Regions from separate parts of the Homo sapiens genome. Here region 1 is linked to region 2. The links come from fine-mapping of genetic effects on gene expression. A gene starts in region 2. The other region holds a variant in brackets. All regions are shown on one strand. Distances are from middle to middle. Region 1 overlaps DNAAF4 (dynein axonemal assembly factor 4). Region 2 holds the start of RAB27A (RAB27A, member RAS oncogene family).

Region 1 (16,464 bases), 160 kb before region 2:
GGAGCTTAATAATCAACCTTCTGAATTATTTATCTGGCAATTCACAGATTTCTTCTTAGTTTGGATCCATTGCTGGAGAGCTAGTATGATCTTTTGGGGGTGTTACAGAACCTTGTATTGTCATATTACTAGAATTACTTTTCTGGTTCCTTCTCATTTGAGTAGACTGTTTCAGTGGTAAGATCTGGAACTCAAGGGCTACTGTTCAGATTCTTCTGTCCCATGGGTGTTCCCTTGATGTGGTGCCCTCCCCCTGCCACTAGGGATGGGGCTTCCTGAGAGCCAGACTGCAGTGATTGTTATTGCCCTTCTATTTCTAGCCACCCAGTTGGGCCCCAGGCTGGTGCTGGGGAATGTCTGCAAAGAGCCCTGTGATGTGATCCACAGGTCTCCCAGCCGTGGATACCAGCACCTGTTCTGGTGGTGGCAGGTGAGTGAAGTGGATTCTGTTGGAGTCTTTTGTTGTAATTTTGTTTAGTGCACTTCAAGTACTGGTTATGTAAGCAGTGAAGTTGTCACGTGGACAGATTCAGGACCTCTGGCTAGACAGGGTGTTGCAGGAAGTGGAATTAGCTGTTGTTTTCTCCTTCTTTGGAGCAGGGTTGTTCTGTTATGAGTTGCTATGGTGGCTTGAGTTCGTTGGGCTCCAGCCAGGAGGTGGCACTTTCAAGAGGGCACCAGCTGCAGTATAGAAGAGAGATATAATCTTGATGTTGGCCGGGACAAGTACTCGGGTTTCTCAGGTGATGGGCAGGGCCATAGAGCAGGTAGAGAAAACCTTGCCCCATCAGGTGGGGGCAAGGTTAGTTGGGTCTGGGCTCAGGCTCCCCTTGGGTGGGGCTTGCTGTGGCCACAGTGGGGGTGGAGGGGATTCTCAGGCCAATGGAATTATGTTCCCAGGGGCATTATGGCTGCCTCTGCTGTGCTATACAGGTCACCAGGGAGGTGGGGGAAAGCTGGCAGTGACAGGCCTCACCTAGCTCCCAGGCAGCCACCAAGGCCAGTCTCACTCTGGCCATGCCACCCCAACCGCACTGCGTTTATATCCAGGCAGTTGGTGAGCAGGGCTGAGATCTTGCCCCAGACTATAAGCCTTGCCACTGAGAAAGCAAGAGGGCTGTTAGGCCTCACCAGTCCCTGCCTGCCCACACTATTGGCTGTGGCTTCTGCACTCGCATCTGTACTTCCCATTTGCCCCCTCTGCCACCAATTTCTGCTTAGGAAAATTCCTGCTCAGTCAAAATTATTACAAAGTTCAGCTACAAGCTTCCTTCACCCTGTGGTCCTGCCCCAATTCCACTGGCTGCCTTCCCGTCTCCAAGGACCTCTGTGAGATCACGCCAGGAATGGCTTCCTTGGACTCCAGCTGGGGATGGAAGTACCTATAGGGCTCTTCCTGCTGCTTCTTCTACTTTCATATTTTGCTCAGCTACCTAAATCTATTTCAGCTCAGGGTAAAGTTAAATCCTTCCCCTGTGATCTGGATTTTCAGGTTCCCCAGTGGGGATGTATGTTCAGAGACTGACCTTTTCTTCCCTCACACTTTGGGAACTCACGGTTTTTCAGCTGTTTCATGGCATTTGCAGCAGCGAACCACTTCTTTCAAAGGGTCTGTGAATTCTTTCAGTTTTCCTACAGTGTTTCTTGCGGTGTTCCTGAAGTGATTCTTGGAGTAAAAGTTCGCATTGTGAGTCTCCAGATGCTGTTCTGTCCATCCAGGTGGCAGCTGCATGTTAATCCTGTCTCCGATCTGCCATTTTCCCTCCTATCTCCCAATGAATATAATTCTATACTGAAAGCTACGAGTTTGGTTTTATCTAATTTTAGAATATTAAACTTTGTTTTGGATGCATTTTCCGCCGGATGCAGTGGCTCACGCCTGTAATCCCAGAACTTTGAGAGGCTGAGGCGGGCAGATCACCTGAAGTCGGGTGTTCAAGACTAGCCTGACCAACATGGAGAAACCCTGTCTCTACTAAAAATACAAAACTAGCCGGACGTGGTGGTGGGTGCCTGTAATCCCAGCTACTCGGGAGGCACTGAGGCAGGAGAATCGCTTGAACCCAGGGAGGTGGAGGTTGCAGTGAAGCGAGATCTTGCCATTGCACTCCAGCCTGGGCAACAAGAGTGAAACTCCATCTCAAAAAAAAAAAAAAGAAATATTTAGTATTTTCCTTACATAAGTCATTATTGAATTCCTATAAATTTAACATTTTAGTGTAAAATCACATATATAATAATAATAATTAACATTTATTAGGTGACTACTATGTGCCAGGGGATTTTATTGCTTGGGTCACTCAGTCTTCACAACACTTCAGTCTAAGTGCTGCTATTCTTATTTTAGAGGAAATAGATGTTCAGAAAAAAAAAATAACTATGAATAAGTAAACTTGTGGGATTTGAACCCAGATCTGGTCTGCATCTGAAACCTGTGCTATTTCCACCAGGTCATATGTCTTTACAACTTTAACAGTGAGGCTTGGCATATTGAAAAGTCATTTAGAGCCTGGGCATGGTGGCTAACGCCTATAATCCCAGTACTTTGGGAGGCCGAGGTGGGCAGATCACCTGAGGTTAGGAGTTCCAGACCACCCTGGGCAACATGGCGAAACCCTGTCTCTACTAAAAATGCAAAAATTAGCCAGGTGTGGTGGCATGCGCCTGTAGTCCCAGTTACTCAGGAGGCTGAGGCAGGAGAATCACTTGAACCCAGGAGGAAGAGGCTGCAGTGAGCCAAGATCGCGCCACTGCATTCCAGTGTGGGTGACAGAGTGAGACCCTGTCTCAAAACAACAAAAACAAAAAAAAGTCATTTAGATTGAATATATATATATATATATATATATATTCAATTTGCTAATATTTTATAAGCAGTTGTCACATTTATCTTCATATTGAGGTTCAGTTATATTTTTCTTTCCTCATACTGTTCTTGTCTAGATTGTATACCAAATTGTACCAGACCTATATACTATAGAGCGTTTTTCTTTTTCTACTATTTGAAACAATATAGTTAGATAAGAGAAATACCTGTTGTTTTAAGGCTTAGTAAAACTTCCCCTAAAACTGTCTAGGTCTGGAGTTTTTTTATGGAGGTTTTTTTAAAAAAAAAAAAAGATTCAGTTTCTATAATAGTTATTGATTATTGAAATTTTCCAAAGTCAATTTTGGTAGTTTGTCTTCTAAATTGTGCATTTTATCTATTCAAATTCATTTTCATAAAGTTTTTATTTACTTATCTGTACTTTATCTATAATTATATAATTTATTAATTTCTAATATTGTTCTTTTTTTTGAGACAGGATCTCACCCTGTCACCCAGGATGAAGTATAATGGATCTAGCTTGATGCTTAATAAAGTAATCTATCCTTTGTTTCTGGTTGTTTTAAAATTCTTTCCCTTGGTATATTATGGGTTCATTAGTATAAGTTCAATTTTATATTTATTTATCTCATAATATCATAACTTGGAGCATACTGTCACTCAGAGAACTTTGTCATTCATCAATTCTGGGAATTTCAAAACTATTGTCTTCAAATATTACCTTCTTGGCTGGTAATTTACCTTCTTGGCTCATGCCTGTAATCTCAGCACTTTGGGAGGCTGAGTTGGGCGAATTACTTGAGACCAGGAGTTCGAGACTTGCCTGGCTAACATGGTGAAACCCCATCTCTACTAAAAATACAAAAATTAGCTGGCTGTGGTGGCACATAGCTGTAATCCCAGCTACTTGGGATACTGAGGCATGGGAATTGCTTGAACCCGGGAGGCAGAGGCTGCAGTGAGCCAAGATCGTGCCACTGCACTCTAGCCTGGGTAACAGAGTGAGACTCTGTCTCAAAAACAAAAACAAAAACAAACAAATATTACATTATTGTATTCTCTTGTTTTCAATATATATTTTCAAATTACACAGATGTTTTTCTTTTTTTTTGAGACAGAGTCTTGCTCTGTTGTCCATGCTGGAGTGCAGTGGCACGATCTCAGCTCACTGCAACCTCCACCTCCTGGGTTCAAGCAATTCCCCTGCCTCAGCCTCCTTAGTAGCTGGGACTACAGATGTGCACCACCACACCAAGCTAATTTTTGTATTTTTAGAAGACACGGGGTTTCACCATATTGGCCACGCTGATCTTGAATTCCTGACCTCAAGCGATCTACCTGTCTTGGCCTCCCAAAATCCTGGGATTACAGGCGTGAGCCACCATACCTGGCCAACTTTCTTGTATTCTCTTTATCTTCCTCAGCTATTTTCTGTATAATATCCTCAGATCTATCTTCTAGTTTATAAATTTTCTTCAACCATGACTAATTTTATGTTATACTTGTCCAAGATGTTTTTAATTTCAGTGACAATATTTTTCATTTTGAAAGTTCTGTTTTTTGGCCAGGCGCTGTGGCTCATGCCTGTAATCCCAGCACTTTGGGGGGCCGAGGTGGGTGGATCACGAGGTCAGGAGATGGAGACCATCCTGGCTAACCCGGTGAAACCCCGTCTCTACTAAAAGTACAAAAAATTAGCTGGACGTGGTGGTGGGTGCCTGTAGTCCCAGCTACTCAGGAGGCTGAGGCAGGAGAATGGCGTGAACCCGGGAGGCAGAGCTTGCAGTGAGCCGAGATCGCGCCACTACACTCCAGCCTAGGCGACAGAGCAAGATGCTGTCTCAAAAAAAAAAAAAAAAAAAAGAACTGTTTTTTTTTCACACCTCTCTGTTCTTTGTCACTAGCTTCTTAGTTTTCATTATTGATGTTAGCCTGTCTTTACTGGCTTTAAGTAAGTATGTTTAAAATGATCAATCTCTTTCAGATTGTTGTGCTATTTCAAAGTCTTGGGGAGCCAGTCGTCTTATTTGTTGTGTCTGCTGATTGTTCCTCATACTGGATTGTTTCCTCTTGTGAATTGTGCTTTTTTGCCTGACCACTAATCTTCTGCAAAAACTTCTTAGTGTGTATGTATGAGGAAATATCATATATTCTTATTTGCAAAAGACTTGTTGATGAGGAATACCTGGAGCTTCCATTTCTTACAAGAGACATTTTTTCCAAGCTTCACTTTCTAAGATTAGTGAGCAGAGATCGTATAAGCATCCTTTTCACTAAGAGTGATGCCCACTGGGCACGGTGGCTCATGCCTGTAATCCCAGCACTTTGGGAGGCCAAGGTGGGTGGCTCACGAGATCAGGAGTTCGAGACCAGCCTGGCCAACATGATGAAACCCGTGTCTACTAAAAATACAAAAAAATTAGCTGGGCATGGTGGTGCACGTCTGTAATTCCAGCTACTCAGGAGGCTGAGGCAGGAGAATCGCTTGAACCCGGGAGGTCCTACCCTTCTATGATTCTAGTTTCATTTCCACCTCCCCACCTCTGTACCTATATCAGCATTAAATTTCCAGTCTCCAGCCATTGATATTAATCTATTTGCATCTAAAATCTTTCCAAACAGCTTTGTGTCAGCTTTTGAGATGACCCTGGCTTTAAGTTCGATGATGAAGCATTTCCTTTACTTACTTTTGAAACTGAACTATATATTGAACCTTTTGTTTATTTATTTTTTATCAAGAATTTGTATGTGTTCATAACATTTTACCTTTTCATAAAATTGCATGTAAAACTTTGTAGTAAAAGTTTTAACCTGTGTTGTTACAAACAGCAAATTTCTTTTTTATGTTTTGCAATTTGCAAATGGAAAATAGAAGAGTTTGTAAATTAGATATATGAGTTTGGAAATTATATATCTTATTTTTACTGTAACTAGTGGTCACTGTAATATTTTTTATAAACACATAAAGATTTGTTTTTCTGTAGCAATATAGTTTTTTTTAGTTATCCTCATGGGATAATAGTGATGATTTCCTGCATGTTCTATATCGTATTAATCATTAGTATTATTAGTAATCTGAAGTAAAATGAAGTATGCTTGATTTTTACTTTCTATTCTATTTTCCTTCTTTTTTTCCTTTTCCTTTTTTTTTTTTTTTTTTTTTTTTTAGTGAGACATGCTCTGTTGTCCAGGCTGGAGTGCAGTGGCGTGATCTTGGCTCACTGCAGCCTCTGCCTCCCAGGTTGAAGCGATTCTCCTGCCTCAGCTTCCCAAATAGCTGGGATTACAGGTGCCTGCCACCACCCCTGACTAATTTTTTGTAATTTTAGTAGAGATGAGGTTTCACCATGTTGGCCAAGCTGGTCTCCAACTCCTGACCTCAAGTGATCCACCCGCCTCAGCATCCCGAAGTGCTAGGATTACAGGTGTGAGCCGCTGCGCCCAGACCTATTTTCCTTCTTTTGTA[T/A]TACTATTTAAAAATATTATTTACAGGCTGGGTGTGGTGGCTTACACCTGTAATCTCAGCACTTTGAGAGGCCAAGATGGGAGGATTGCTTGAGCCCAGGAGTTCAAGAGCAGCCTGGGCAACAAAACAAGACCCCATCTCTACAAAAAAGCATACAAACAAAAAATTAGCCATGTATGGTGGTGGGCACCTGTAGTGCCTGCTCTTGAAAGGCTGAGATGGGAGGATTTTTTGAGCCAAGGGGTTCAAAGCTGCAGTGTGCTGTGATTGCATCACTGCACTCCAGCCTCGGTGACGGTAATAACCCTGTCTCAAAAAAAAAAAAAGATATTATTCACAAAATTTTTAGTGTGTTCTCCACTGCTTTAGAAAACCCATTCTTTTTCATTTTGCTCTCAAATTCCCCACTCCTGGTTTCTTAATGTTATTTCTCTGTGTTCTGGAACATTTATTTGAGTAATGTATTCACAAAAGATGACTAGGTAGTGTTGGCTGAGTTCTTACATACCTAGAAATGTCTTTTGCCATTATGAGTGAGCAACAGTTAACTTGGATATAAAATTATTGGGATCTTGTATTAGGTAGGTTCAAGCCGAGCATTGTAAAATAAAGCCCCAAATGTACAGATCAAATAAAGATAAAAATTTAGTTCTCTTTAATGTAATACTTTGTTATGCAACAGTGCTCAACGACTGTGTTCTACAAGGCCATCCTGGCTGATGGGATCACCTCTGTTATCACATTATTTGGCTTTCATCTTTGAGTCTAAGAGCGCTCCTTCCCCCCTTGCCCCAGTCCTTTGAAATGTCTAGTCAAGACCCTTTCCTAGTTTTCGTTTGTTTGTTTGTTGGAGACGGAGTCTCACTCTGTTGCCCAGGCTGGAGTGTATGGCACGATCTCGGCTAACTGCAACCTCCACCTCCCAGGTTCAAGCAAGTCTCCTGTCTTAGCCTCCCAAGTAGCTGGGATTATAGGTATGTGCCACAGGCCTGGCTAATTTTTATATTTTTAGTAGAGACAGGGTTTCATCATGTTGGCCAGGCTGGTCTTGAACTCCTGACCTCAGGTGATTGGCCCGCCTTGGCCTCCCAAAGTGCTGTGATTACAGACATGAGCCACTGCGCCCGTCCTTGCCAGTTCTCATTAGTTCTCTTTGATGGCTAAAACCTCTTACACTATTATAAGAAAGCATATAGGAGATAAAGTATGTAGGAGATACTGCTATAGAGTTTAAGGAGATAGAGATGGTATTGGCAGTGGTGGTTTTGCCTATGTGCCCTTCTCTAGAGTTGATGTAGAGTTGCCTAGAGTATCCTCCCTTAGAGTTGATGTGAATTAAACACTGTGGTTTTACAAAGAGAACCCCAGAAAAGTAGCTGAGGCCATTGATAAAGAGCAGGTAGGTCATTAGCTGCTATATTATCATTGCTAAATTTTGCATTCTTTTCTTGCAGAAAATATATTTGATTTATTTGTTTAGGATTTGGGGGTGAGCTTTGATGTGTAATTACTTTATCAGTTGATTGTTAACTAGAAAATGAGAAATAAGTGACTTGTTTGCTACCATTGTTTTTGAAGGGAGAAATTCAGAAAATATATTTACTGAGAAGTTAAAGGAAGACAGTATTCCTGCTCCTCGCTCTGTTGGCAGTATTAAAATCAACTTTACCCCTCGAGTATTCCCAACAGCTCTTCGTGAATCACAAGTAGCAGAAGAGGAGGAGGTATATATACTTACTCTAGTTACAATTACCACAAATGAAAATACTTTATTTTTATTTCATCTATTGAAATTAGTACTGGTTCTGAATTTCTTAAGTATTTATTACACTAAAGAAATAACGTCATGAATATGTTTTAGAATTTCCTTATGAGAAAATATATTTTGCAGATGTTTTTGGCTCCAGAATAGTGATAAGAGAATACCGACTTAATATATGTACAGTAGGCCGGGCGCAGTGGCTCATGCCTGCAATCCCAGCACTTTGGGAGCCCGAGATGGGTGGATCACTTGAGGTCAGGAGTTCAAGACCAACCTGACTAACATGGGGAAACTCCATCTGTACTAAAAATACAAAAATTAGCCTGGCGTGGTGGCGAGCACCTGTGATCGCAGCTACTAGCGGGGCTGGGGCAGGAGAATTGCTTGAACTTGGGATGTGGAGGTTGCAGTGAGCCGAGATTGCACCATTGTACTCCAGCCTGGGCAACAGAGTGAGACTTTGAATCAAAAAAAAAAAAAAAAAAAAGCGGTCTTTTTGTTGTTGTTGTTTGTTTTAGAGATGGAGTTTTTGCTCTTGTTGCCCAGGCTGGAGTGCAGTGGGCACAATCTCAGTTCACTGCAACCTCCTCCTCCCAGGTTCAAACAATTCTCCTGCCTCAGCCTCCCTAGTAGCTGGGATTACAGGCATGCGCCAGCATGTCTGGCTAATTTTTTATATTTTTAGTAGAGATGGGGTTTCACCATGTTGGTCAGGCTGGTCTCAAACTCCTGACCTCAGGCGATCCACCCTGCTCGGCCTCCCAATGTGCTGGGATTATAGGCATGAGCCACCGTACCCAGCCAAGAACTGCATTTTTTTACTGCGAGGCTGAATTGATGCATCTTTGATTTGAAAAATTGTAGAAATAAGAAGATCCTTAAGACATAATGACAAGCCGGGCGTGGTGGCTCACGCCTGTAATTCTAGCACTTTGGGAGGCCGAGGTGGGTGGATCACCTGAGGTCAGGAGTTTGAGACCAGCCTGGCCAACATGGTGAAACCCCATCGCTATTAAAAATACAAAAATTAGTCCAGTGTGGTGGCAGGCACCTGTAATCCCAGCTACTCGGGAGGCTGAGGCAGGAGAATCACTTGAACCCGGGGGTCAGAGGTTGCAATGAGCCAAGATTGCACCATTTCACTCCAGCCTGGGTGAAAGAGTGAAACTCTGTCTCAAAAAAAAAAATAAAAAATAAAAGACATAATGACAATATAAATAATTATTTCATATTATTAAACAAGGTATTTTCTATATTTGTAACATTTCTATAATTATACAGTTATAATAATAATAATAATTATTATTATTTTGTGGGATGGAGTCTCGCTCTGTCCCCTAGGCTGGAGTGCAGTGGCGCAGTCTCCGCTCACTGCAAGCTCCACCTCCTGGGTTCATGCCATTCTCTTGCCTCAGCCTCCCGAGTAGCTGGGACTACAGGTGCCCACCGCCACGCCCAGCTAATTTTGTGTAGTTTTTAATAGAGATGGGGTTTCACCATATTAGCCAGGATGGTCTCAATCTCCTGAACTTGTGATCCACCCACCTCGGCCTCCCAAAGTGCTGGGATTACAGGTGTGAGCCACTGCGCCCGGCCCATAGAATTATTTTTGAATTGTGTTTATACACACACACACACACACACACACACACACACACACACACCCTTTTTTTTTTTTTTTTTGAGTTGGGGGTCTTGCTCTGCTGCCCAGGCTGGAGTACAGTGGGACAATCATGGCTCACTGTAGCCTTGAACTCTTGGGCTCAAGTGACCTTCTGCATATTTTTCAGTACAGAAAAATGAAAATATAAAAGAATTTTAGATCAATATCCTGGATGAACATCGATGCAAAAATCCTCAATAAAATGCTGGCAAACCGAATGCAGCAGCACATCAAAAAGCTTATCCACCATGATCAAATGGGCTTCATCCCTGGGATGCAAGGCTGGTTCAACATACGCAAATCAGTAAACGTAATCCAGCATATAAACAGAACCAAAGATAAAAACCGCATGATTATCTCACCAGATGCAGAAAAGGCCTTTGACAAAATTCAACAGCACTTCATGCTAAAAACTCTCAGTAAGCTAGATATTGATGGGAAGTATCTCAAAATAATAAGAGCTATTTATGACAAACCCACAGCCAATATCATACTGAATGGGCAAAAACTGGAAGCATTCTCTTTGAAAACTGGCACAAGACAGGGATGCCCTCTCTCACCACTCCTATTCAACACAGCATAGTGTTGGAAGTTCTGGCCAGGGCAGTCAGGCAGGAGAAAGAAATAAAGGGGCTCCCCTCTCCCCTCTCCCCTCTCCCCTCTCCCCTCTGCCCTCTCCCCTCTCCCCTCTGCCCTCTCCCCTCTCCCCTCTGCCCTCTCCCCTCTCCCCTCTCCCCTCTCTCTTTCCACGGTCTCCCTCTGTTGCTGAGGCTGGACTGTACTGCCGTGATCTCGGCTCGCTGCCACCTCCCTGCCTCAGGCTCCTGTCATTCTCCTGCCTCGGCCTGCCGACTGCTTGGGATTGCAGGCACGCACCGCCATGCCTGACTGGTTTTTGTATTTTTGGTGGAGATGGGGTTTTGCTCTGTTGGCCCGGCTGGTCTCCAGCTCCTGACCTCCAGCTCCTGATCTGCCCGCCTCGGCCTCCCGAGGTGCTGGGATTGCAGATGGAGTCTTGCTCACTCAATGCTCAATGTTGCCCAGACTGGAGTGCAGTGGCATGATCTCGGCTCGCTACAACCTCCACCTCCCAGCCGCCTGCCTTGGCCTCCCAAAGTGCTAAGATTACAGCCTCTGCCTGGCCGCCACCCCATCTAGGAAGTGAGGAACATTTCTGCCTGGCCGCCCATCGTCTGGGATGTGAGGAGTGCCTCTGCCCAGCCGCCCAGTCTGGGATGTGAGGAGCACCTCTGCCCGACCGCCACCCCATCTGGGAAGTGGGGAGCGCCTCTGCCCGGCTGCCCCGTCTGGGAAGTGAGGAGCGCCTCTGCCCGGCCGCCCATCATCTGGGATGTGAGGAGCGCCTCTGCCTGGCCACCCCGTCTGGGAAGTGAGGAGTGCCTCTGCGCAGCCGCCCCATCTGGGAAGTGAGGAGCACCTCTGCCCGTCAGCTGCCCCATCTGGGAAGTGAGGAGCGCCTCTGCCCGGCTGCCCCGTCTGGGAAGTGGAGAGCGCCTCTGCCCAGCTGCCCCGTCTGGGAAGTGGGGAGCGCCTCTGCCCGGCCGCCCATCATCTGGGATGTGAGGAGCGCCTCTGCCTGGCCGCCACCCCGTCTGGGAAGTGGGGAGCACCTCTGCCCAGCCGGCCCGTCTGGGATGTGAGGAGCACCTCTGCCCGGCCACCCCATCAGGGATGTGAGGAGCGCCTCTGCCCGGCCGCCCCATCTGGGATGTGAGGAGCGCCTCTGCCTGGCCACCACCCTGTCTGGGATGTGAGGAGTGTCTCTGCCCGGCTGCCCCGTCTAGGAAGTGAGGAGCGCCTCTGCCCGGCCACCCCGTCTGGGATGTGAGGAGCGCCTCTGCCCGGCCGCCACCCCATCTGGGAAGCAGGGTGCGCCTCTGCTCGGCCGCCCTGTCTGGAAGGTGAGGAGCGCCTCTGCCTGGCTGCCCTTCATCTGGGATGTGAGGAGCGCCTCTGCCCGGCCACCCGGTCTGGGAAGTGAGGAGCACCTCTGCCTGGCCACCCCGTCTAGGATGTGAGGAGCACCTCTGCCCGACCGCCACCCCATCTGGGAAGTGGGGAGCGCCTCTGCCCGGCCGCCCCGTCTGGGAAGTGAGGAGCGCCTCTGCCCGGCCGCCCATCATCTGGGATGTGAGGAGTGCCTCTGCCTGGCCACCCCGTCTGGGAAGTGAGGAGTGCCTCTGCCCAGCTGCCCCCCCCCCCCGTCTGGGATGTGAGGAGCGCCTCTGCCCGGCCGCCCCGTCTAGGAGGTGAGGAGCGCCTCTGCCCAGCTGCCACCCCTTCTGGGAAGTGGGGAGCGCCTCTGCCCGGCCACCCCGTCTGGGAGGTGAGGAGCGCCTCTGCCCGGCTGCCGCATCTGGGAAGTGAGGAGCGCCTCTGCCTGGCTGCCCTGTCTGGGATGTGAGGAGCGCCTCTGCCCGGCCGCCACCCCATCTGGGAAGCGGGGAGTGCCTCTGCCCGGCCACCCCGTCTGGGAGGTGAGGAGCGCCTCTGCCCGGCCACCCCGTCTGGGATGTGAGGAGCGCCTCTGCCCGGCCGCCCCGTCTGGGAGGTGAGGAGCGCCTCTGCTCGGCCGCCCCGTCTGGGAGGTGAGGAGCACCTCTGCCTGGCTGCCGCATCTGGGAAGTGAGGAGCGCCTCTGCCCGGCTGCCCCGTCTGGGATGTGAGGAGCGCCTCTGCCCGGCCGCCACCCCATCTGGGAAGCGGGGAGCGCCTCTGCCCGGCCACCCCGTCTGGGAAGTGGGGAGCGCCTCTTCCCGGCCGCCCCGTCTGGGAGGTGAGGAGTGCCTCTGCCTGGTGCCCTTCGTTTGGGAGGTGAGGAGCGCCTCTGCCTGGCCACCCCGTCTGGGAGGTGAGGAGTGCCTCTGCCTGGCCGCCCCATCTGGGAGGCGAGGAGCGCCTCTGCCTGGCCGCCCCATCTGGGAGGTGTACCCAACAGCTCCGAAGAGACAGCGACCATCGAGAACGGGCCATGATGACGATGGCGGTTTTGTGGAAAAGAAAATGGGGAAATTTGGGGAAAAGAAAGAGAGATCAGATTGTTACTGTGTCTGTGTAGAAAGAAGTAGACATAGGAGACTCCATTTTGTTCTGTACTAAGAAAAATTCTTCTGCATGGGATGCTGTTAATCTATAACCTTACCCCCAACCCCGTGCACTCTGAAACATGTGCTGTGTCAACTCAGGGTTAAATGGATTAAGGGCGGTGCAAGATGTGCTTTGTTAAACAGACGCTTGAAGGCAGCATGCTCGTTAAGAGTCATCACCACTCCCTAATCTCAAGTACCCAGGGACACAAACACTGTGGAAGGCTGCAGGGACCTCTGCCTAGGAAAACCAGAGACCTTTGTTCATGTGTTTATCTGCTGTCCTTCTCTCCACTATTATCCTATGACCCTGCCACATCCCCCTCTCTGAGAAACACCCAAGAATGATCAATAAATACTAAAAAAAAAAAAAAAAAAAAAGGGTATTCAATTAGGAAAAGAGGAAGTCAAATTGTCCCTGTTTGCAGATGACATGATTGTATATTTAGAAAACCCCATCGTCTCAGCCCAAAATCTCCTTAAGCTGATAAGCAACTTCAGCAAAGTCTCAGGATACAAAATCAATGTGCAGAAATCACAAGCATTCTTATACACCAATAACAGACAAACAGAGAGCCGAATCATGAGTGAACTCCCATTCACAATTGCTTCAAAGAGAAAAAAATACGTAGGAATCCAACTTACAAGGTATGTGAAGGACCTCTTCAAGGAGAACTACAAACCACTGCTCAACAAAATAAAAGAGGACACAAACAAATGGAAGAACATTCCAAGCTCATGGATAGAAAGAATCAATATCGTAAAAATGGCCGTGCTGCCCAAGGTAATTTATAGATTCAATGCCATCCCCATCAAGCTACCAGTGACTTTCCCCAAAGAATTGGAAAACAAACTACTTTAAAGTTCATATGGAACCAAAAAAGAACCCACATTGCCAAGACAATCCTAAGCCAAAAGAACAAAGCTGGAGGCATCATGCCACCTGACTTCAAACTACACTACAAGGCTACAGTAACCAAAACAGCATGGTACTGATACTGAAACAGAGATATAGACCAATGGAACAGAACAGAGCCCTCAGAAATAATACCACACATCTACAACCATCTGATCTTTGACAAACCTGACAAAAACAAGAAATGGGGAAAGGATTCCCTATTTAATAAATGGTACTGGGAAAACTGGCTAGCCATATGTAGAAAGCTGAAACTGGATCCCTTCCTTACACCTTATACAAAAATTAATTCAAGATGGATGAAAGACTTAAATGTTAGACCTAAAACCATAAAAACCCTAGAAGAAAACCTAGACAATACCATTCAGGACATAGGCATGGGCAAGGACTTCATGTCTAAAACACCAAAAGCAATGGCAACAAAAGCCAAAATTGACAAATGGGATCTAATTAAACTAAAGAGCCTCTGCACAGCAAAAGAAACTACCATCAGAGTGAACAGGCAACCTACAGAATGGGAGAAAATTTTTGCAATCTACTCATCTGACGAAGGGCTAATATCCAGAATCTACAAAGAACTCAAACAAACTTACAAGAAAAAAACAACCCCATCGAAACATGGGTGAAGGATATGAACAGACACTTCTCAAAAGAAGACATTTATGCAGCCAACAGATACATGAAAAAATGCTCATCATCACTGGCCATCAGAGAAATGCAAATCAAAACCACAATGAGATACCATCTCACACCAGCTAGAATGGCGATCATTAAAAAGTCAGGAAACAACAGGTGCTGGAGAGGATGTGGAGAAATAGGAATACTTTTACACTGTTGGTGGGACTGTAAACTAGTTCAACCATTGTGGAAGACAGTGTGGCGATTCCTCAAGGATCTAGACCTAGAAATACCATTTGACCCAGCCATCCCATTACTGGGTATATACCCAAAGATTATCAATCATGCTGCTATAAAGACACATGCACATGTATGTTTATTGCAGCACTATTCACAATAGCAAAGACTTGGAACCAACCCAAATGTCCATCAATGATAGACTGGATTAAGAAAATGTGGCAGTAATGTGTGCCATCCAGGGCTAGAGCAAGTGCGGCCCCACGGCCTGCACGGCCCTGAGCCATGCTGAGGAGCTGCGCCAGGCGCCTCCGCACGCTGGGGGCCCTTTGCCAGCCGCCACCGGTAGGCAGGCGCCTGCCGGGTAGTGAGCCGCAACCCGCGCTGAGGTCATTTTCTTCTGAGGAAGTCATTCTTAAGGACTATTCTGTCCCCAACCCCAGCTGGAACAAGGACCTAAGACTGCTCTTTGACCAGTTTATGAAGAAATGTGAAGACGGCTCCTGGAAACGTTTGCCTTCATATAAACGTACACCTACTGAAAGGATTCAAGACTTTAAAACCCATTTTCTTGACCCAAAGCTTATGAAAGAAGAACAAGTGTCACAGGCCCAGCTCTTCACCAGAAGCTTTGATGATGGCCTGGGCTTTGAATACGTGATGTTCTACAATGACGTTGAGAAAAGGATGGTTTGCTTATTTCAAGGAGTCCCTTACCTAGAAGGACCACCTGGATTGATTCATGGAGGTGCCATTGCAACCATGATTGATGCTACTGTTGGTATGTGTGCAATGATGGCTGGGGGAATCGTCATGACTGCCAATCTCAACATCAGTTGTAAAAGACCTATCCCTCTTTGTTCTGTTGTTAGGATAAATAGCCAACTTGATAAAGTTGAAGGAAAGAAATTTTTTGTTTCCAGTAATGTTCAGAGTGTTGATGAGAAGACCCTATATTCAGAGGCGACAAGCTTACTTATAAAGCTGAATCCTGCTAAAAGTCTGACATAAAGAGCTGCTGGTGAACTCCATCTCATTCTCTCCCCTCCAGAAGAAGCAGTTGTCCCCCGAATACTCTGCTCCCTCACTGCTGAATCCCTGTAGGGAGAAGCCTGCCAAGAGTGACCTTCCGAAACAGCCTTCTGAATACAAGGAGGATTCAGTTTCCATCTTCCCAACTTTTTAACACAGAAACACTTCCTGCGAGCATTTCGACAACTCTCAGTCAGGGCGCTGTGGCTCACGCCTATAATCCCAGCACTTTAGGAGGCCAAGGCGGGTGGATTGCCTGAGCTCAGGAGTTCAAGATCAGTCTGGACAACACGATGAAACCCCGTCTCTACTAAAATAAAAAAAATTAGCCGGGCATGGTGGCGTGTGCCTGTAGTCCCAGCTACTCAGGAGGCTGAGGCAGGAGAATTGCTTGAACCCGGGAAGCGGAGGTTGCAGTGAGCCAAGATCATGCCACATCACTCCAGCCTTGGCAACAGAACGAGAACCCATCTCAAAACAAAACAAAACAAAAAAAACTCTGTCTCCTTAGGATGTGTTACCTGCTCCACTGCGGACTGGAGAAATAAATGTGTATTGAAACTTTTCCTGCAAACTTGAAAATGCTAGAAAACCAAGCATGAAGAATAAATACATGGCAGGGAAGACACAGACATGTGCATATGCATATACATTATAAGTTAGTAAGTTAGAAAGCTAGCTTTGTTGTATCTGAACACATGAATCTTTTTGGTCAGAGTAGGAAGCACAGCCAAATTCTATAGGAATGAATACCTCAAATCTGTTGTCTGGGATTCTAGAGATTAAACCACTGTGCCATTTAAAAAAGAAAAAAGAAAATGTGGCACATAGACACC
Region 2 (16,464 bases):
GCTGCTTGGGAGGCTGAAGCAGAAGAATGGCATGAACCCAGGAGGCGGAGCTTGCAGTGAGCTGAGATCGCGCCATTGCACTCCAGCCTGGGTGACAGAGTGAGACTCCATCTCAAAAAAAAAAAAGAAAAAAAAAGAAATTAGGATTGCTATAACATTATTATCTAATTTCATGTATCATCCAAATTCTCCCAAGTCCCATTAATGTCCTTTAGAATAAGATAAACTTGTTTTTTTCTGGTCCCAGAACTAATCCAGAATCATATTTGAATTTAGTTGTCATGTCTCTTGTTTCCTTTATTCTGGAGCCAGTTTCTCAGTCACTGCCTTTCACAACTGACTTTTTTTTTTTTTTTTTTTGAGACAGATTCTCACTGTGTCACCTAGGCTGGAGTGCAGTGGTGTGATCTTGGCTCACTGCAACTCAGCCTCCTGGGTTGGAGCAATTCTCCTGCCTCAGCCTTCCGAGTAGCTGGGATTACAGGTGTGAGCCACAATGCCCGGCTAATTTTTGTATTTTTAGTAGAGACGGGGTTTTGCCATGTTGGCCAGGCTGGTGTTGAACTCCTGACCTCAGGTGATTCACCCACCTTGGCCTCCCAGAGTGCTGGGATTACAGGCATGAGGCACCGTGGCCGGCCCTGTTGCGGGAAGTCAGGGGCCCCAAATGGAGGGACCGGCTGAAGCCATGGCAGAAGAACGTGGATTGTGAAGATTTTATGGACATTTATTAGTTCCCCAAATTAATACTTTTATAATTTCTTGTGCCTGTCTTTACTGCAATCTCTAAACATAAATTGTGACAATTTCATGGACACTTATCACTTCCCCAATCAATACCGTTGTGATTTTCTATGCCTGTCTTTACTTTAATCTCTTAATCCTGTCAGCTGAGGAGGATGTATGTCACCTCAGGACCCTGTAATAATTGCATTAACTGCACAAATTATACAGCATGTGTGTTTGAACAATATGAAATCTGGGCACCTTGAAAAAAGAACAGGATAACAGCAATTGTTCAGGGATTAAGAGAGATAACCTTAAACTCTGACTGCTGGTGAGCCAGGCAGAACAGAGCCATATTTCTCTTCTTTCAAAAGCAAATGGGAGAAATATTGCTGAATTCTTTTTCTCAGCAAGGAACATCCCTGGGAAAGAGAATACGCACCTGGGGGTATAGGTCTATAGACGGCCCCCCTGGGTGTGCCCATCTTTTATGGCCTGTAGACTGTAGGGGTGAAATAGACCCCAGTCTCCCATAGCGCTCCCAGGCTTATTAGGAAGAAGAAACTCCCGCCTAATAATTTTGGTCAGACTGGTTGCTCTCAAAACCCTGTCTCCTGATAAGATGTTATCAGTGACACTGGTGCCTGAAACTTCATTAGCAAATTTAATTTCACCCCAGTCCTGTGGTCCTGTGATCTCGCCCTGCCTCCACTTGCCTTGTGATATTCTATTACTTTGTGAAGTACTTGATGTCTGTGACCCACACCTATTCACACACTCCCTCCCCTTTTGAAAATCCCTAATAAAAACTTGGTGGTTTTTGCAGCTCGTGGGGCATCACGGAACCTACCGACATGTGATGTCTCCCCCGGTCGCCCAGCTTTAAAATTTCTCTCTTTTGTACTCTGTCCCTTTATTTCTCAAGCTGGCCGATGCTTAGGGAAAGTAGAAAAGAACCTATGTGACTATCGGGGCAGGTTCCCCAATACGGCCCACAACTGACTTTTTTTTTTTTTTTTTTTGAGACGGAGTCTTGCTCTGTCATCCAGGCTGGAGTGCAGTGGTGCAATCTTGGCTGACAGCAAGCTCTGCCTCCCGGGTTCACACCATTCTCCTGCCTCAGCCTCTCAAGTAGCTGTGACTACAGTTGCCTGCCACCATGCCCAGCTAATTTTTTGTATTTTTTTTAGTAGAGACGGGGTTTCACTGTGTTAGCCAGGACGGTCTCGATCTCCTGACCTCATGATATGCCCACCTCGGCCTCCCAAAGTGCTGGGATTACAGGCATGAGCCACTGTGCCTGGCCACAACTGGGATTTTTTAAGAATGCTGGCCTGCTGTGTTGTAGAATGTCTATTAAATTGGGTTTGTTGATGGTTTTTTATTATTTCATAGATTCAATTTGGTAGAAATATACAGAAATGATGTACTAGCATGATTCATGGATTCCTATTTTGTGGGTTACAATCCATTACTACTATCAGGGCTGGCTGCGTAATTTGTGGGGCCCAGCACAAATGAAAATGCAGGGCCCTGGGTGGGGACAAGGAAGCCAATTTCCTCTTCTCATAAACTGGCTGTTCCAGTCAATGCAAATGGACAATGCCCAGGGAACTGTACCTTCCATGCTGGTTTGTTCTCAGTTGTTGGATGGCACTGGTAAGAGGCCCCAGCTGAATGGCCTGCAGAATGTGCTGTGCTACTGTCAGATTAGGGAGGGGACAGCTGCCTTCTTGATCACCCCATGGTGCTATGAAAGTTGCAGTTACAGGATAAAGTCCACTTTACTCAGACCCAGACAAATTGGAGCTAGGAGAGCACAAAGGAGAGGAGCTCATGCTTGCATGTCTACAGCTAAAAGCTGTTTCCAGGCAATAACCCACAAGAAATTCTCTCATGTCCTTCATGCATCTTATGCTTTGCACGGCTTGCATGTTTCACACACATGCACGTATTTCTTTGACACAATTTCTTACTAGACATTTTTTAGGACTGCAGCAATTCAGATAAGATGATCTCAAAAGAAGGCTTGCCTGATAATGGCTTCTCTACCAGTGATCTACTAGTAACTCTGGCTTTGAGCCTCTGGTACCAATAAACTGTTTCTAAGTAGCTTACATGAACTTCTCTGTTGTACCGATAAAGGCTTCCCTTTACCCTCCCCTCTCTGGATGCATTTGTGGCTTGCTATAACTGTGCATCCCAGGTTATAATCCTTTTTGCTTACTCCCAGATAAAATAATTATATTATGAAATATTTTTTTCTGATGTCTTTTTTTTAGGTTGACAGTGCCCTGGGATATGGGCCCAACCCTGAACCCTCCTGCACCTATCCATACCTAGGTTTCTGCCAGGGTGGAAGGTGATGACAAAACGTGGGCCTCCCCTAGCCAAGGTGACCCAGTCACTGCTCTGAAGCAAGGCAGGGAATGCAAAGCTGGGCAGGGACCATGGGACCGGCGGTAGGGAATAGGCAGCAGCAGGCCTCAGACCCACATGTCATCAGAGGCTCCAGGCTCTCAGCATGCTCCATTGTGCCAAAAAAAAAGCAAAATTATAGTCTAATTAAAAATAAATAAGTCTTTAACTGAGGAATAGTCCTCCCTCAGGATGGATCCTGTGTCCTTTGCATGTCACTGTCATTTTCTGAGCACTCTTTTACTTTCTGGCTCATCTTTTTCCTTCCCAGACCAAGTTTTGTTTTTCTTTGTTTTTTTGTTTTTGAGATGGAGTCTTGCTCTATTGCCCAAGCTGGAGTGCAGTGGCACGATCTAGGCATCTAGGCTCACTGGAACCTCTGCCTCCCGGGTTCAAGTGATTCTCATGCCTCAGCCTCCCGAGTAGCTGGGACCACAGGCATGTGCCACCACGCCCAGCTAATTTTTGTATTTTTAGTAGAGACGGGTTTTCACCCTGTTGGCCAGGCTGGTCTGGAACTCCAGACTGCCCACCTCGGCCTCCCAAAGTGCTGGGCTTACAGGTGTGAGCCACCGCGTCAGGCCCCACACCAAGTTTTGAATCAAGAAGTACTGGGGCTGGGCACGGTGGCTCACACCTGTAATCCCAGCACTTTGGGAGGCCAAGGTGGTTGGATCCCAAGGTCAGGAGTTCGAGACCAGCCTGGCCAACATGGTGGAACCCCGTCTCTACTAAAAATACAAAAACAACTGGGCATGGTGGCGGGTGCCTGTGGTCCCAGCTACTCGAGAGGCTGAGGCAGGAGTATCGCTTGAAACCGGAAGGCGGAGGTTGCAGTGAGCCGAGGTCACACCGCTGCACTCTAGCCTGGGTGAAAGAGTGAAACTCTATCTCAAAAAAAAAAAAAAAGTATTGGTTCTTTTAAAAAAAAAAAATTGAAGCAAAATCTGCATCACAAAAAATTAGTCTTGGCCATTTTAAAGTGTACAATTCTGTGACATTTTGTACATTCACAATGTTGTGCAAATACCACTTCTATCTAGTTCCAAGACAGTTTCATCACCTCAGAAGGAAACCTCGTGTGCAATAAGCAGTCAACACCTCATTTCTCCCTCTCCCTAGCCTCTGGAAACCACTAGTCTGCTTTCTGTCTCTATGGATTTACCTGCTGTGGATGTTTCATATAAGTGGAATTATACAATATGTGACCTTCTGTGTTTGACTTCTTTCACTTAGTGTAATGTTTTTGAAGTTCATCCACGTTGTAACATGTATCAATACTTTATTCCTCTTTATGGCTGAATAAAATCCCATTATATGGATGTGCCACATTTTGTTTATTCATTCCTTGGTGGCCATTTGTCTCCAGTTCTGGGCTGTTGTAAATAATGCTGCTATGAACACTTATGTACAAGTATTAAATATTTGTTTGGATGCTTGTTTTCAGTTCTTTTAGGCATAGTTCTAGGAATAGGCTTGCTAGGTCATCTGTTTAACTTTTTGAAGACTCACCAAACTTTTTCAAAGTGATTGCACTATTTTACATTCCCAGTTTCTCCATGTCCTTGCCAAATCACCCTTCTTTCCTCCCTCCCTTTCCTTCTCCTTCCTTCTTTCTCTTTCTCTTGCTTTTTCTTTCTTTCCAACCTAGTGAGTTTGAAGTGGCAGCTCATTGTGATTTTGATTCACATTTTCTTAATGACTAATGACATTAAACATCTTTTCATTTGAAGTTGGCCATTTTTATGTCTTTTTTGGAGAAATGTATATTCAATTGTATTCATATGCCCACTTTTTAATTGGATTATGTCTTTTTGTTGTTGAGTAGTTACAGCTCTTTATATATTCTGATACTATAATTTTATCAGATATATATGATTTGCAAATATTTTCTCTCATTCTGTAGGTTGTGTTTTCACTCTGTTGATAGTGTGCTTTTATGCACCATTTACAAAAAATTTGGTGAAGTCTAATTAATCTACTCTTTTCTTCTGTTGCTTGTGCTTTTGGTGTCAAATCTAAGAAATATCATTGCCAAACCCAGGGTCATAAAGATTGATGCCTATGTTTTCCTCTAAAAGTTTTAGAGTTTTAGTTCTTATATTCAGCTATTTGATTCATTTTGAGTTAATTTTTGTGTATCATGTAATTTTATATATGGTATTGGTAAGAGTCCAATTCCTTATTCTTCTTCCTTTTTTTTTTTTTTTTTTTTTTTTCGGAGACAGGGTTTTGTTCTGTTGCCCAGGCTGGTGTGTAGTGGCACGATCTTGGCTCACTGCAACCTCCGCTTCCTGGGCTCAAGCGATCCTCCCATCTCAGCTTCCCGAGTAGTTGGGACTACAGGTGCAAGCCACCACGTCTGGCTAATTTTTCTATTTTTAGTAGAGACAGGGTTTCACCATGTTGCCCAGTTGGGTCTGGAATTCCTGAGCTCAAGGGCTCTACCTATGTTGGCCTCCCAAAGTATTGAAATTACAGGCGTGAGCTACCGCGCCAGGCCTCAGTTTCATTCTTTTGCATGTAGATATCCAGTTCTCCCAGTACCATTTGCTGAGGAAACTTCTTTCTCCATTGAAAGATCTTGACTATAGATGCATAATTTTATTTCTAGACTCTCAAGCCTATTCCACTTATCTATATGTCTTTATATCAATACCATAGGTTTTTTTTTTAATTACTATACCTTTGTAGTACATTTTGAAATCAGGAAGCATGAACTTTTTAAATTTTTGGGTCCTTTGCAATTTCATATGCATTTTAGCATACACTTTTCCATTTCTTCAAAAATGTTGTTGAATCTGTAGCTCTATCTGGGGAATATAGCCATCTTCACAATATTATGTGTTTGATTCCATGAACATTAAATGTATTTTCTTTTCTTTTTTTTTTATCTGAGAAGTTTCACTCATCACCCAAGCTGGAGTGCAGTTGCACGATCTCGGCTTACTGCAACCTCCACCTCCCGGGTTCAAGCAATTCTCCCGCTTCAACCACCCGAGTAGCTGGGATTACAGGCACCCACCACCACGCCCGGCTAAATTTTGTATTTTTAGTAGAGACGGGTTTCGCCAAGTTGGCCAGGCTGGTCTCAAACTCCTGACCTCAGGTAATCCACCCGCCTCAGCCTCCCAAAGTGCTGGGATTACAAGCGTGAGCCACCGCGCCTGGCCATGTCTTTTCATTTATTTAGATTTTCTTTTTTTTTCAGTAGTGGTTTGTGGTTTTCAATGTATAAATCCTGCACCTTCTTGGTTAAATTTATGCCTAGGTATTTTATTCTTTTTGATATTATTGTAAATGGAACTTTTAAAGTTTCCTTTTCAATTGTTCATTTCTAATACATTGAAATGCAACTGATTTTTATGTGTTGATCTAGTATCTTGCATCTTTGCTTATTTCATTTATTAGCACTAATAGATTTTTTATTTAGGATTTTCCATATATAATATTATGTAATTGGTTCCTTTTGTTGGAAAGGGATATTAAGAAATCAACATCCAGGTGCTAAGTGTACTCGTAGCTACTTTGATATAATTGCTTCTAGGACCTCTTAGCAGACAGAGCTAGATAATACATACATATACACATACATATATCTATATTTATTTATTAAAATCCATGAATTCTTACTGATTCCATCCACTTTAATTCTATTAGGAAAACTGGAGGCAGAACTCTCCATGTTGCAAGTAGCAGTGTCAGAAAAGCCCCAGTGTGGGAAGCAAGAGGTATACTGTGATCGATTCTGTGGCTGCAGTAAGAAGTGGCGTAGAGATGACTTTGAACTGACACACGAGATGTGTTCAGTGTACTTAGTTTCTGTAATAACACTCTCCTTGTTTTCTTCCTACCTCTCTGGATACTCTTTTTTTGGATTCCTTTTTGAACTTCCATTGCTCATGCCTTAAATGCTGGGTGTTCATCTGGGTTCTGTAACAAGCCTATTGCCCTCTCAGCTCACTTTCTAGATTAGCTCATTGATTCTAATGCCTTCCAGTACCTTTTGGGTAATAGCTACAGCACATGTTTTCTGTGCTTCAGATAGGCCTGTTTGACTACATACTAAACAGCTTCACTTGGATATTCTGTTGGTGCTAGTGTGTCAAAATGGAAATGTCCTAAACTCATCACTATGGCCTATTTCACCCTTCCTCCTGGTTGCAACTAGGTTTTCTTCCTGTTGCTTAATGGTTTCTTGTTGCCCAAACCAGAAACTGGGCATCCCCATGGACTACTGCCTCTCTTTCACACCCCTACATCCCAGTCCTCTTGATTCACTCTCCTAAATATGTCAAATATGTCCATTCATCTCCATCCTTATGGCCACTGCCGTAATCAGATCGCTATTATCCCTCACTTGGATTACAGCGTGCTAATTGACCTCTCAGACCCATTCTTAGAACCATTAAAAACTTGAGTTCTGAGTTTTAGGCCTGGCTGTGCCACTTATTAGCTGCATGATCTTGGTCAGACTGCTTAATCGCTTTAGGACTCAGTTTCCTCATCTGTAATACAGAGGTAAGAATAGTACCTACTTCATAAAGTAGTTGTAAGACACGTATGAGGTGATGTAGTCAAAACTATTAGCATATTGGCTGACTCATAGTAAATGATCAAGAAATGTTAGTTATGATCATGATCATCATTGCAGGGTTATTCACCGCACAGCCTCTGTTATTTCTCCATTTTCTTTTCTGATTGCTTTCAGTCTTTCAGCTTTTCTGAACCTCTTCCTGTTGCTCCAGTGTTGAATGCTATCTTTTGCTTCCAGGCCTTCCCTCTGCTCCATTTTCCTGGAATTCTCTTCTCCCTTGCCCCTTGCCCTCATTCATTCTAAGTTTATCCTTAACTTTCTCTTGATTTGGTGTCATTTATCTGTGCTCCAATAACACTCTTTAACTTCCTTTATTGAGGCTCTTATCTCACTACTGGAGTTGCCTACTTATTCGATGGTCTCTCAAGTAAGTCCTGACGTCAGGGACCAGTTTACCTTGTTTACTAATAGGGTGCCTGACTTGATGAATGAGTGAATGAATGGGTGATGAATGGGCCATAGCACCATCCTAGGTTTTCTGATCTCCTGTCTGGTATACTCCTGGTGAGAGCCTTGCCTGGCCACAGGAGTGGGGAAAGCTGAAGGCAGGCTTTCCCTGTGCCATATCAGCCATTAGCAATTACTACATTATTGGTTTCCCAGATTTTAGCTGATCAGTGATTCCCAGGACTATTCCTCTGGACATGAACATGAGGCTACCTTTTCCCTTTTTTTTTTTTTTTTTTTTTTTTTTTTTTTTTGAAACAGAGTCTCGCTCGGTCGCCCAGGCTGGAGTGCAGTGGCGCCATCTCGGCTCATTGCAACCTCCACCTCTCGGGTTCAAGCGATTCTCCTGCCCTCAGCCTCCTAAGTAGCTGAGACTACAGGCGCGTGCCACGACGCCCTGCTAATTTTTTGTATTTTTAGTAGAGACGGGGTTTCACCGTGTTAGCCAGGATGGTCTCGATCTCCTGACTTCGTGATCTGCCGGCCTCGGGCTCCCAAAGTGCTGGGATTACAGGCGTGAGCCACCTAACCCGGCCTTTTTCTCTCTTAACCTCACCAACAGTCTGATGGCCCTTCTCTCACACGGGAAGAGCTCTTGAAGTTATCAACCTGTTAGGACATTTGTTATCTCTAAACCCGAGTTTACTGTGTTATGTTTGCCTGGAAATGTTATATCAAATGTATGAAATTGCCAACTGTTTGTAATTTCATATGGTTCATCCTATATGTGATTTTGTAAATTGGACCCACCTGAGAAGCTAACTGCTGTAATGCCAACTGTGAGTAGCTACAGACTGGAAAGGTGATGGAGTTGACCGGGTGGGCCTGCGACAGCTGGAATTTGCGGTGGAGGTAGACACAAGTCAGCGAGACGGCTTAGAAGGCAGAAGGGAAGCTGAACTAAGGCTTCTCAACATTTTACTCTGCTTAGAAGTGGAAACATTTGGTTCAAAGGGCCTTTGCCTTAGACTCCATAGGGACAGGCCCAAGGGCTGCTGTTCACACCTCCTGGCCACTGAGAGGGATGAACTTGGCTGCCTCTGAGTGGGAACCACGAGGTCTGACCCCCTACGCAGTCCCAGGTTCACTACCCCGCAGGCCGGAGCGACACCGTTGGCGCTGGGAGAAGAGAGCCGCTGGGTGGCAGCAAAGGCGCGCAGGTTTCTTCCGACAGAGGCGGTTCCTTAACATACTGTAGTTTTCTTCTTTTTAAACTCATTGCTCTAACACTCTTAGAAATTTACAGTGGTTTTATATTCTTGAATTACACAGTGTGAGCAGAGACTCCGTTTGCCATTTCCTCCCGGAATTACATTGATTTTTTTCCTGCGAAATTTTTTACTTATTTTTCTCCCATGTTATTTCCAGGAATCCTGGGCATTCCCTTGCCCCGGAAACGCCGTGTCCAGGCCGACCTAAGCCAGGAGCCGCAGGGGCGGGAAGCCGGGGGCAGGGCCGGGCCTGGGACGCCGCCTCAGGAGCCGCGCGGACTCGGGAACCTCGGGCGGGGCCGGCGTGAGTACGCCCGGCACCTCCGGCTGCTACGGTGGCGACCGCGAACTGATGCCGTGGAAAACACCCTTAGAACATGGCTTTTTGGGGAGGTGAATAGGGGAGAGTCCCCAAACGACACCTCGCCGCGCACCGGTCCTTGGTGCAGTTTGTAAATGTCCCTCCTGTGTCCCAAAACGAAAACACTCCTATATTTTGTAGCGCCTTCCAGAATGGGGCAGCGGAAACTAGTGTTGGGACAAAGGAGGCGAGCGGGGCCTTTTCGGGGCTCACAGAGGACCCCTCGGAGGCGCGGCCGCCGGGGAGAGCGCGACAGCACCCCGCCCCCCGCCAGCCGGGCGGGGGCCGCTCCCGAGGTGACAGGAGAAGGCGGGAGGTGGAGGAGAGAAGGTCCCGCCCCACCTCGCTCTCCTTTACGGGAAGTGATGTGGGGCCAGGCGGAAAATACCCGCCAACGACCCAAAAAAGGCCGGCGGCGGGTGGACGCGGCGCGCGAGGACCCGAGCCAGGCGGGGACAGGACGGCGGGGCGAGCCAGGTGAGGGGGCCTGAGGAGCGGGAGGCGCGCGGCGGGTCCGGTCCCTCCGGGAGGGCCGAGCGAGGCGTCCCCCTGGGGCCGTCCTAGGGCTGGGGTCCGAGTGCGCCGCCCTTCCTCCCCGCCTCCAGGCGCCCGAGCCCGCCTGAAGAGTGGCTTCTCTCCCAGGCCCTCAGCGCAGACCCCAGTGATGACAACTGCCTGGTGCTGGCCAGGTGCGGTCCCAGGTCCGGCCAGGGTCTCAGATCGCCTCCGGGTTGCATCCAGGTGGGAGGATGCCCATCAGGGGTAGGAAACTTTCCAGGAGGGAAAGGAGGAAAGTCCCCGACCTCCCGCACGCCCCCCGGTTCATTCCTCCCTCTTTTGCTTTCAGTTTAACTGTTTAACCTGGTTGCCCTCCGGTTGGTGAGGGTCTGGACTGCAGACTAGCTGCGAGGGAGGGGCTCTCTCTTCTCCTGTCAGTTAGACTGAAAACTACCTGGCAGCCAGGCCCTCCGGTCGGGACTGGTGGTGGTGCAGATATGATGACAGGCTTTGGTAACTATTGCCAAAGCCTGTCTCTGTCCCAATAGATCACCAGTTCAGCAAAGTCAGGCCTGAAGCGAAGGGAGTCTTGTGAGCCCTGGACTGAGGAGCCTTCCCAGCCTTTCCGCTCCTGCTGGCCACCTGGGCCCACATGGCCTCAGGGTCTTCTGCCACAGGGTCCTTACCCCTACAGCTTAACAGCTGTTCTTTCCTTCTGGATGGATTCTCACATTTTATGGTTGGTTGATCAGTCAGATGTTGGAATTGGGGGTAGAGGGATTATAGAGTTGTGTGTGCTATTTAAGTTTTCTGTAATCATTGCTAATTAAATTTGTTGATTCTCCACTCACTGTTCTTGTTCTTTTTTTTTTTTCGGCCTTAAAAACTTGCTTTAGAGGGAAAATACAATCTGGAAAACAGTTTCTGCAGATGGTTAGAAGTGAAGAAAGGTTAATATAATGCTGAAGGAACTTGACTGAGGATCATTATTTTCTGTATTTTATGTTGGTTTATGTTGTTTTATGTTTTCATTCCTACTTTTTTCTTCCTTCCTTTCTACCATTCTCTCTTCCTCCCTCCCTCCCTTTTTTCTTCCTTCCTTAATTTCTGTGACGTGCCTTGATTTTTAATTTCGTTGAAGTATATTTAATCTATTTTTCCTTTTTTTTCTTTTGAGACAGAGTCTCACTCTGTCGCCCAGGTAGGAATGCGGTGGCATGATCTTGGCTCACAGCAACCTCCGCTTCCTGGGTTGAAGTGATTCTTTTGCTTCAGACTCCAGAGTAGCTGGAATTACAGGTGTGTGCTACCATGCTTGGCTAATTTTTGTATTTTTAGTAGAGGCGGGGTTTTGCTATGTTGGCCAGGCTGGTCTTGAACTCCTGACCTCAAGTGATCAACCTGCGTCAGCCTCCCAAAGTGCTGGGATTATAGGCTTGAGCCACTGCACCGAGCCTATTTTTCCTTTTGTTGTTTGTGCTTTTGATGTCAAAGTTAAGAAAACATTGTCAAATTCAAGATCATGAAGATTTATACTTATGTTTTCTTCTAAAAGTTTTATAGTTTTTAGCTCTTACATTTCATTCTTTGACCCATTTTAAGTTAATTTTTAAATATGGTGTGAGGCAGGGGGTCTGACTTCAACTTTTTGCATGTGGATATCCAGTTCTTTCAGCACCATTTGTTTAAAAGACTGTTCCTCTTTGAATAGTTTTGGCACCTCTGTTGAGATAAATTGACCATGAATGTAAAGGTTTATTTCTGGACTGTCAGTTCTATTCCATTGATCTGTATGTCTGTCCTCAGGCTAGTATCATACTACCTTGATTATTGTAGCTACATAGTGTTTTGAAATCAGGATATGTGAGTCCTCCAACCTTGTTCTTTTTCAAGATTGTTTTGACTATCCAGTCCCTTGAATTTCCATATGAATTTTTTTTTTTTTTCGAGATGGAGTTTTGCTCTTATTTACCAGGCTGGAGTGCAATGGCACGATCTCAGCTCACTGCAACCTCCGCCTCCCTGGTTCAAGTGATTCTCCTGCCTCATCCTCCTGAGTAGCTGGGATTACGGGCATGTGCCACCATGCCTGGCTAATTTTATATTTTTAGTAGAGACAGGGTTTCTCCATGTTGGTCAGGCTGGTCTCGGACTCCCGATCTCAGGTGATCTGTCTGCCTCAGCCTCCCAAAGTGCTGTGATCATAGGCATGAGCCACCATGCCTGGCCTTCCACATGAAATTTAAAGTCAGCTTCTCAATTTCTATTGTTTTGGTTCTAAAATAGATGTAAGGGTTTTAAAGTGAGCAACAATCTCTAGGAGCCAGATTTTTGAGTTTTCTCTCCCAAAGCTGCTTTTCCCCTAGTCTTCTCCATCTTAGTGAATGGCAACTTCACTCTTCCAGATGCTCACACCAAACACCCTGAAATCACTCTTGATTCTTTCTCTTATACCCCACATTAAATTCCTCAGCAGGCCGGGTGCGGTGGCTCACGCCTGTAATCGCAGCACTTTGGGAGGCCGAGACAGGTGGATCACGTGAGGTCAGGAGTTCAAGACCAGGCTGGCCAACATGGTGAAGCCCTGTATCTACTAAAAATACAAAAATTAGCGGGGCGTGGTGGTGGGTGCCTGTAATCACAGCTACTCAGGAGGCTGAGGCAGGAGAATCGCTTGAACCCAGGAGGCGGAGGTTGCAGTGAGCTAAGATCGTGCCATTGCACTCCAGCCTGGGCGACAGAGTGTGAGTCCGTCTCAAAAAAAAAAAAAAAAAAAAAAAAAGAATACATCTAGGATGATAACCATTTCTCACCACTTCTGCTGCTTCCACCAAGTTCTATCATCTCTGTCACCTGGATTACTGCAAAAGCCTTCTGAAGGGCTTCCCTGCTTCCACCCTTACTGCTCCACACTCTATTCTTAACACAGCAGCCAGAGTCTATTATGTCACTCTGCTTGAAACTCTCCAGTGGCTTTTTATCTCAGAAGTGACAGAGTCCTCACCATGGTCTATACAACCCTTGCATGGAGTGCGGCTTCATCTGCTATCACTCTTGCCTTTGCTGACTCTGCTCCAGCCATACCTCAGGACCTTTGCACTTGTTTCCTCTGCCTGGAATGCTCTTCCCCTCAGATGTCTGCATGGCTTTCTTATTTATTTCATTCAGGTGAAAAGTCATTTTTCTGGAGAGGCCTTCTTAGACCACTCCATCTAGAATAGTATCCCTCACCTATCCCATCATTTTCTGCCCCCTTACCTTGCCTTGTTTTCTTTCGAGTATTTATAGAACTGTCATACACAGACCAGCACACACACACAACATTTGTCTTTCACTGGTAGAAGACAAGCTCCAGGATGGCCAGTAATCTGCCTTGTTCACTGTGATGTCCATAGCACATAGAATGGTTTCTGACATATATTAAGCACTCAAAGAGATATGTGTTGAACTAATGAAAAAGGGAACAGAAGACAGAGCAATAGGGATCATTCTGCCATTTCTCCCATCCAAGTACTAACCAGGCCCAACCCTGCTTGGCTTCCAAGATCAGAGGAGATCGGGCACATCCAGGATGGTATGTCTGTAGAGTGTTCTGCTATTTCTTTCCCACTATTCCATCCATTTTTTTCTAAGAGAAGCAATGTCTATAGATACACCAACATCTCCTAAGTCTCTCGTCTTCTGTCCTACTTTCCCAAAAATAATAGTCTTATCTTCCTTAAAAAGGGAAAGGTCAAATAAGTAGAAAGGTGAGGATTTTGGTCCCTCCCACAGTGGCAGACCGGAGCCCTCTGTCTATATCCTGGGCAAACTGGGCAGGGCCATTCAGTGCCTATCTCCAGGGTGTTGGCCTCTTGTGCTAATTTAAGAAGAGTGAAGTTTTTTGGAAATTTGAGAAAATGGAAATTCATTTCTTATTTATTTATTCAATAGAAACGGGGTTTCACCATGTTGGCCAGGCCCCTGAGAAGGGAAATTGTCTTGCCATCGCTAAAACAAGATTGGTTCTTGAAGAGAGTAATTTTTCCCTTCTATAGCCTTCACTTTTTATGCCACTTGCAGATTTTCTTGGACTGTATTTGTTCTTCTGCCTCTTGGTCAGGAAGTTTGAGTTTATGATTTGGTTTCCCTTAAGCTAGGTGCAGACATGAGCCCTGAACTGGAGGCAGAGATAAAGGGTTTGTAATTTACTTATGTTCGTAGGGTAAGGTGTGTGGAGTAGAGAGCATTCAGCTCTGTTTGGACTCTCTGGTTTTGCAGGTACTTGTATGATTGAGGTCTAGTAATACTCATATTTTATTTATTGTCAAGTAAAATTAGATGCCTCTCTTACGAGGAATGCTGAAAGTTTTGTTCCTCCTTTCCTGTTTTTTTTTTTTTTTTGGTTGTTTGTTTTTCGTCTGTATATGTTGCCCTTAAACAGAAGTTTACCATGTAGTGCTTTAGTCAGCCAACCTCCCGTGTGTGGAGTGAGAGTTTTGATTCTAATGTGGGGATGGAGGTGGGGTGCCAGATTTAGCAAACTAAAAAAAAGTTAAATTTGCATTGCAGAAAAACACTAAATAATTGTTTCCTATATCTTATACATTATTTGGGACATACTTTTACTAAAAAATTGTTCTTTATCCAAAATGCACATTTAACTGGATGTCTTGTTTTGTGTCTGGCAGCCCTAGCTGGAGTTTATGTTTATGCATAGGAAATGCATCGATGGTGAAAATGTCCAAAGAATGATTGAGCCATGGCTGATTTTTGGTGATTGTGCATGTATCCAAAAGAGAAGATTTGTAAACCCAAGGAGTATTAGAATTAGAAGGAAGTTAGAGAACATTTCATTTTACTCTAGTCTTTTATAGTTAATGGAATTTACTCCAGAGAGGTTAAGTCACTTTGTCAAAGTCACATAGAGTTAGTGGCAGAGCTGGAAGTGGGACTCTGGAACCAGCAGTTGTTCTGCTGCATAATCCCTTCCCTTAAGAGGTCATGAAGAAGTTGCTTATGTTTTCATGTTGACCTTTAATCACATCTCTAGCCATCCACTCAAGATCACCTCATTATCATACTGTCCTTCAGTCCCCAGATCCAACATGTGGCAGCCAAAGCCATTCTCATGAGACACTTTGACTTTTCTCTGAGAGCCGCATAACTGTTGAAAGCCCCATGTGGTTCTTGTCCCTGCTGTTATGCCAGAAAGCCTGTAATTCAATGTGGTTTTATTTTTTTTTATGGTTTTGTTAACACTTTTGACCCTCTGGAGTATTTATTATAAGGTGCTTTGATTAAGGTGGTCTTACTGAGTATAATTCCACAACAACTAAGTGTTGTCTTATGGAAAGCCTGCTTGCTTTGAGTGGCCTATTCCCACAAAATTCCTCACCCCTTTTTATTTTGGTACAATAAATATGGAAGATATACATATGACAAGGACCAAGGTAGATAGACAGGTGTATGTGACTTGCTCACTAGAGATCTGTTCTTTTTAAACAAGATTTTATTATTTTTTATTGTAATTATTTGTACCTATTTAAAAGAAAGCAGCCTTGAAAATGAACTGCTTTCTCTAACTGCTATTTGAATACCATATTTCAGAACCACTAATCTTGTTTTTTCATAGTTTCATTGGTTAATTCATATAAAGTCTTACCAGCTGCCAGGTCAAAGCATAATAATAAAATTGGTTGCCACGAGACTGAAAAGTCTGTTCATTCTTATTTGCTATAGTTTATCTACCTTGGCCTGATCCCACCACCTGGGAGGCTGGTCAAGTCCTATCAGGGTATGGCTAAATACTAATCTGCTGTGTATTTGTATCGTTAAAAGCAAAGTCAAGGTCTAAATCAGCTAGTTAAACACAATAATATGATACTTTTGTTCTTGCTGTACTAGCCCTAATAAGGGGAGAAATGAAACATACAGAAATAGGTCATGACTTAAATGTTCATTTACAAAACTAAAGAATTTTAAAATATAACCTATGATTGTGGTCAGGATTTCTTTGTTTCTTGCTAAGAAATCATTATGAAAATAGTGATTTTCATAATAAATCGCATCATTTCAAGGAAACAACTCCAAGAATGAGTGAAGAGGTGTAACAGTCCTTGAAAAGATAAGTCATTGTCCTCACAGTCAAATACTGGAGACCTAATGTGGCTTTTCTCATTAGGGACAAGGTCAGCTGTCCCAGGTCCCACGTCTGCCCTAGGCTG

The links.
Region 1: its variant is fine-mapped to the expression of RAB27A in whole blood (TOPMed, PIP 0.94).

What each region holds. Positions count from the first base shown.
Region 1 is chr15:55,441,775-55,458,238 of GRCh38, reverse strand. DNAAF4 (dynein axonemal assembly factor 4) reads left to right here. Exons shown (of 10, transcript NM_130810.4): 6 at 7,872-8,017. It overlaps DNAAF4-CCPG1 (DNAAF4-CCPG1 readthrough (NMD candidate)), which reads left to right. Exons shown (of 16, transcript NR_037923.1): 5 at 7,872-8,017. It also overlaps the pseudogene LOC100420711. Among named protein-coding and RNA genes, the nearest start is that of PIERCE2, 42 kb to the right of the region's middle. The variant T/A (reference allele first, on the strand shown) is at 6,294.
Region 2 is chr15:55,283,489-55,299,952 of GRCh38, reverse strand. RAB27A (RAB27A, member RAS oncogene family) reads left to right here and starts at 10,140. Exons shown (of 7, transcript NM_183235.3): 1 at 10,140-10,237. RefSeq lists an enhancer at 9,673-9,822 and a silencer at 9,923-10,452.